Regions from separate parts of the Homo sapiens genome. Here region 1 is linked to region 2. A link means that fine-mapping ties the variant in region 2 to the plasma level of a protein whose gene starts in the linked region. Region 2 holds a variant in brackets. A gene starts in the other region. All regions are shown on their forward strands.

Region 1 (3,006 bases), not on the chromosome of region 2:
CAGGCGCCCTGGGTGATAGACTGGCTGGCCTGAGTTGGTGACTGAGAAACCTCAGGGATTTGAAAGATGCCAGGACTTGGGTCACTCAGAAAAGAAAACCTCAGGGTAGGGGTTCAGGACAGAAGTGGGGAGGAGCTGGAGATCCTGAGAGGACACCGGGGGCATGGCAGCCGGGAAGAAACCTGCTTAACAGCCTCAGCGGCCCGGGGAACGAGAGCGCCCAGCCCCAGCCTGCACCCAGCTGTACGCTGAGGCTGGGGACCAGGGAGAGACAGGCTTTCTTAAGCAGGGAGGGTTTGAGCCAGCGACAGCCACTGTGCAAAGTTACTGAGGATTAAACAAATCAGACTTGAAAAATCCAGCGAGTGTGTGAGTGTGTCTGGATGGGGGAGGGGGCACTATGCAATCCCCTTTCCCAGAGACAGCCCCAGCCCAAGGCACCCAGCCCTGATAGAAACACCGACTAGAAGCCCAGAACCTGGGAAGGGGTGCGGGGAATGAGAAAGCGGTGCAGGGGTTGGGGGTAGCGGAGCGGCTTGAGGCTTGCACAGTGCAGAGCTGGGCTGTTAGGGATCGGGACCGAGGCAGGGTCGGGCAAGCAGGTGCAGGCAGGCAGCACGGCTCCCCCTGGCCCCAGTACCTTTCTCGAGCTCGCTGATCCGCTGGTGCAGGGAGGTCAGGGCGGTCTCGATCTTGACCCTCTCCTCGGTGTCGTTCCTGGGGCCCCCCTTGCCCTCCTCCAGGGTGTTCACCCGGGACAGCACCTGCCTCTCCAGCTCATCGATCTTGCTCTGCAGCAGATCCTTGAGGCTGTTGGTCTGGCTGGAGGAATTGAGGCGGCTGTACTGCTGCGGGGTGCAAGGGCGGGGGAAACCACACCGTTAGGCGAGGCGCGGGGACCGTGCTGGAAGGCCCGCGGCGCGGTCCCCTCTGGGCGACTGCGGGGGCGGCCTGGCAGGGAGCTGGGGCGAGTGGCCGCCGCGGGGCCTCGCAGGCGCGGGGAGGCACCGGCCGGGCACCCGCGCGGCTGAGGCGAGGGCGGGGGATGCCTGGCCGGGTAGGGAACGGGGTGGGGGAGGGCAGAGGGGCGAGCGAGCCGGAGGGGGAACCGGAGCCGAGGGCGCGCGCGGACCTCGAGGTTCTCCAGGCGGGTTTTGAGCGATTGCAAAGTTTGCCCGAGTTGGCTGAGCGTCTCGGCGGCCGGTGTCCGGGACAGGTCGCCCATGGTGTTCTTGCCCGAGCCGGGCTGCTTGCGGCCGCCGCCCGCCCGGGCCTCGCCGGCTCCGGGGTCCAGCGTGCTCTGGCTCTCGCAGCGGCCCAGCTTGGCGGTCAGCTCGCGGATGGTCTCCTTCTGGCTCAGGATGGTCTCCTTCTGCTGCAGCACCGTCTCGCGGAGCTGCAGCACGCTGCTCCGGAGCTCCTCGGCGCCGCCGGCGGCCACGGACGCGGCGCACATGTCGGCGTCCACGGGCACCGAGGTGCAGATGAAGCGCGTCGGCCCGAAATCCTGGGCCCCGGCGCCCAGGAGGCAGAGGGCGAGCAGCGCACAGGTGCGCGCGGCGCGGCCGGCCGGCATGGCTGCGGGCACCGGGCGCTCCGGGCCCGGCTCGGCTCGGCTGGGGCTCGGCTCCGGCTGGGACCCGGCTCGGGCTGTGGCTCCGCGAGCGGCCCGCGCTCTGGGCGCCGCGCTCTTCGGCCGCGCGGTCCACACCGCCGCGCTATCAGGCCCCCACTGCCGCCTGCGCTGCGGAGCCCGCGCCTTTTATGCCGCCGCGGGAGGGGCCTCGAGCCGCCGACGTCAGCGGGGGAGGAATCCCGCTTTAATTGTCCGCGGCCCGGGCCCGCGGCGCGGCGGGGGTCTCACGAGCGCGCCACCGGGGCTGCCTCCGCTCGCGTCCCCCCCGCCCTTCTGGGAGCTGCCGCGGCCCCCTCCTCCCCCGCCCCCGCCTGGGCCGGCGCTGCTGCCCCGAAGGCTCCGAGAGCTCAGGGGGAAGGAAGTCGGGCTCCGGCCCCGGACTCGAGGATGGACCACCTGCGTGGTGTCCCCGAACCTCCGACGGGGCTCCAGGCGGGCGGGAAACCACCGCGTCCGGGAGATAGAATTCGGTTCGGCCCTCCTGGCTGCACTGAACACCCTTGGGCCGGGGTCGTTTGGAGCCGGGCTGGGTGCCCAAGGACCCAGGTCGTCAACACCCGAGTGCCCGGTGGTCAACGGCTCGGAGTGGGGCCTCGCGGCGCCACTAAGTCCAGAGCGGGGGTCACCGGGCCGCCCCGCGTTTCTTAGATGTCCGTGTGCTATTGAGAAGCCGCCGGGCAGCCTGGGTACAGGGACTTCCCACGGGTCGGGGCCCCCGGCGCCTCCCCTCCCCCAGCTCCCGGGCTCTGTGGACCCGGCCCCGTCCCCGGGGGACTGTCAGTCCCCACCCCGTGCGGGCGGGGCGCTGGGGACTTCTCGGAGGCAGACCTAGCTGATCGAGCCTTTCCTGTCCGCGGCGCCGGCCCGATCGCGGGCAGGCGGCGTCGCCGGGGCTGGACGTTCGCAGCGGCGCTTCGGAAGGGGGCCCCGCGGGAGCAGCCGCCCGCGTCTCCAGCAGCTTCCCCTTGCCAGGCGCCGCGCGCGCCCGGTATCCCCGGGTGTCCACCTGTGCGTGGGGGGCTGTTTCCCGTCTGTCCAGCCGCGCCCACTTCTCAGGCCCAAAGGCCAGCAGGAAGGGTCCCGGAGGTGGCTGGGGGCGTCCACCTGAGAAGCTCCGCTCTCGCTCAGACACCCCACCCGGCACCCGCGCACTCGCGCCTTCATCTGGACCGCGGGGCTCGGCTCCCGAGATCGCGGTCCGGGTTCCGGCGCCGGGCTGGGGGCTCAGGACCAGGGCTGGCGCAGCCGCCCCGCCCCGCCCCGCCCCGGGGCTATCAGAGCGGTCAAAGCCTCGGAAATCCCTCCGTCCACGCTCCCGTGGTACAGAGAAGGAAACTGAGGCTCCGAGACTGCGGGGCCGGGCTACAGCC
Region 2 (2,500 bases):
AGAAGCTGTACATTTTTTTTTTAAGAGTTGACTTTTGAAGCACTTTGCACTCTGGTGAAAGGTACATCCAGGCTAAAGGCTTAGGAAGAGAAAAGACATAGAAGCAAGACACGGAGGGAAATCTAGTGGGAGTGGCAGGGCCTGTGGCTCCAGGAGGTTGGGCATGGGCAGAGGAGAGCAGTGGGGAGATGGGCCTGGTGGCAAGATAGGGCCAGCTTTTGAAATTCTTTAGTTATTTATTGAGTAATTTAGATAAAAACAAGAATCATTAATAAAAGGCGGAGAATTATTTTGGCTTCATGGCAGGTGGTACAGCTTGGGCTTATAATTCTGTAAGACTTTGGGCAAGGAACCTAACCTTCCTGTGTTACCAGTTTATTCGTCTGTAAGTAAAGTGGGTCTAATATACTGAGGTAATCTTTGAATTACTTAAGACAGTGCCTTGTGCATAGTATGAGTTCCATACTCCTACTATGGAACTCTTGGTAGTGGTAGAAGTGAAATTTGAACTGGGCCTTAAGAAAAAGAATTTGGACAGAGGGTTATCAAAATGGGGAATTAGTGATGTTGGGGAGTTAGGAAGACTGATCGTATTGTTTATTGAAATGTACTTTAGAAATGAAGTTGGAATTAGATCAAGTGGACCATTAATTCCCAGTTAAGAGTTCTAAGTGAATAAAGCCCCTAAGACTTGATTTTAAAGTATTAAAAATAAGTAAACAAATGAAAAGCCTAGTGAAAGAAAGTATTTCCTTAGGGGTTATCAAGCTTTTAAGAATGGGTTTGCCATGGTGTTAAACCCCCACCGCTGTCTTCAACATCCCCCCGCCCACCATCCCCACCCCTGCCTGATGGCTTAGTTGCTCTGTGAGCTCACTCCTGAACAGCAGCATTCCCGTGGCTTGGCAATCTCTGGTGTAAACAGTTCACTTTATAAAAATGTACGCACTCTAAAATCTTGTAGTGCCCTTTCCCCTTTAATTTCC[A/G]AAGCACTTATTTGTTTCTCTCTTGATTATCACAGTAACCTTGTGAGTTAAGTATGGCAGTTGGCAGGAGTCACCATTTTACATGCCGTGGAACTGAGTCTCTAAATTTAATTTAAGCTAGTAAATGGCAGAGATGGAGACATGAAACCTGGACCCTGGCTCCTAGTTCCAGCGCTCCATCTGCCACAAAACATGGTTTCTGTGGAGTAATGATGGCTTATGTACACTTTTATTTAAAGTGTGCTGTTTTTCCACATGGCCTTGCTTTCATGTTGGCATCTGATGAGTCATGCAAATATAGGGTGGCACGGGTGATTCAAATGACAGGATGAGTAAAACTCAGTTTTGGTCTTCGTGGCCATGTGGCTTGCACTGAGACCTTTAACTTTGCTTCCTACCTTTCAGAGAAGGAAGCACCAGGTATGAATTCTCTCAGTTCTTTCTACCTACAGTGCCACCCCCGCCCCCAAATCATAGCAGCCACCATTTGTCTCTTTCTGTTTAATCTCACAGAAGGAGGTGTTCTCAACTCCCCCACTCTCAACCTTTGGTTAGCTTAAACCTTTCCCTTATTACTCAGCTCTTTCATGATAGTCTATAGTTACATTTAGGCCTTTCCCAACTGAAAGAGCAAAACAAACCCTTCTTCACTCTTGTGTCTTCTCTAATTACTACTTTCTTGTTCCCTCCACAGCAAAAGCTCTGGAGACAGAAGTAGGTAAACACTGTTCCTGCTTCCTCTCCTCCCCTCCCCTCTACTTGCAACCCATTGCAGCCTGCTCTGTGCCTTCACGCCACTGCCTCTGCCGGCAGGAGCCACTAGTGGACTGTATTGGATGAATTCGAGGAATGCTCTTTAAGGCCTTATCCTACTTGACATCTCTGTAGCATTTGACACTTGACCACCATCACCTTAAACACTCTCCTCCCCTGTTGTCTGGGTTTTCTTCTACCTTTTTGTACGTGCCTTAATCTCCTTTGGAGGCTGCTGTTCCCACTCCTCCTCCAGGGCTCTGTCCTCAACCATCTTTTCTCATTCTGCAGCCTTTCCCTGGTGACCTCATTTGCACTTAAGATTCAACTGCCGTTGCTCACGAACACCAGAGTGATTTTCTAGCCTAAAACTCTTAAAACGTATTTTGAGATCTAGGTTCTGTTATCCACCTGCCCACTGGACTTTTCTAGTAGGTGTTGCACAGGCATCTTAATTGAACCTGTCTAAAATGGATTTTTTTGTGCCCCCCTCTCCCTGTATCACTTCACACACAGAATGTTCTCCTTCCTCCTGGTCATCAGTTCTCAATTCCTTTCTGTCATATACTCCATTGTTTTGAAAGCAGCTTGATCCTATGGAGATTACTTTATAAACATTCATAGCTTCTCCTTTTCTCTGTCCCTCATTTAGTATGGATTTTTACCGTCTTTCTTGAACTGTTACAACTTCTTTCTAACCTCTCATCTTGCTGTTTTCCTGCTTCTCAGTATGCCACATTATTTCACATGAGTGATTTGAT

Which allele goes with the higher level. Positions count from the first base shown, and alleles are read on the strand shown. Strength reflects both the effect of a copy and how common the allele is.
As copies of A replace G in region 2, the plasma level of the protein whose gene starts at base 1,737 in region 1 goes up (weak association).

The links. PIP is the chance, under the fine-mapping model, that this variant and not a neighbour inherited with it causes the effect. Protein levels are from antibody-based Olink assays in UK Biobank. Linkage for the fine-mapping came from a reference panel and not from the study's own genotypes, which makes the PIPs less certain.
Region 1: it holds the start of NPTX1, and the variant in region 2 is fine-mapped to the plasma level of the NPTX1 protein (UK Biobank, PIP above 0.99).

Annotation. Positions count from the first base shown.
Region 1 is chr17:80,474,871-80,477,876 of GRCh38, forward strand. It overlaps NPTX1 (neuronal pentraxin 1), which reads right to left and starts at 1,737. Exons shown (of 5, transcript NM_002522.4): 1 at 1,133-1,737; 2 at 641-848. The coding sequence starts at 1,576. RefSeq lists an enhancer at 191-724.
Region 2 is chr4:87,057,074-87,059,573 of GRCh38, forward strand. All of the region lies in intron 4 of AFF1 (ALF transcription elongation factor 1), which reads left to right. Among named protein-coding and RNA genes, the nearest start is that of AFF1, 120 kb to the left of the region's middle. RefSeq lists an enhancer at 1,660-1,749. The variant A/G (reference allele first, on the strand shown) is at 987.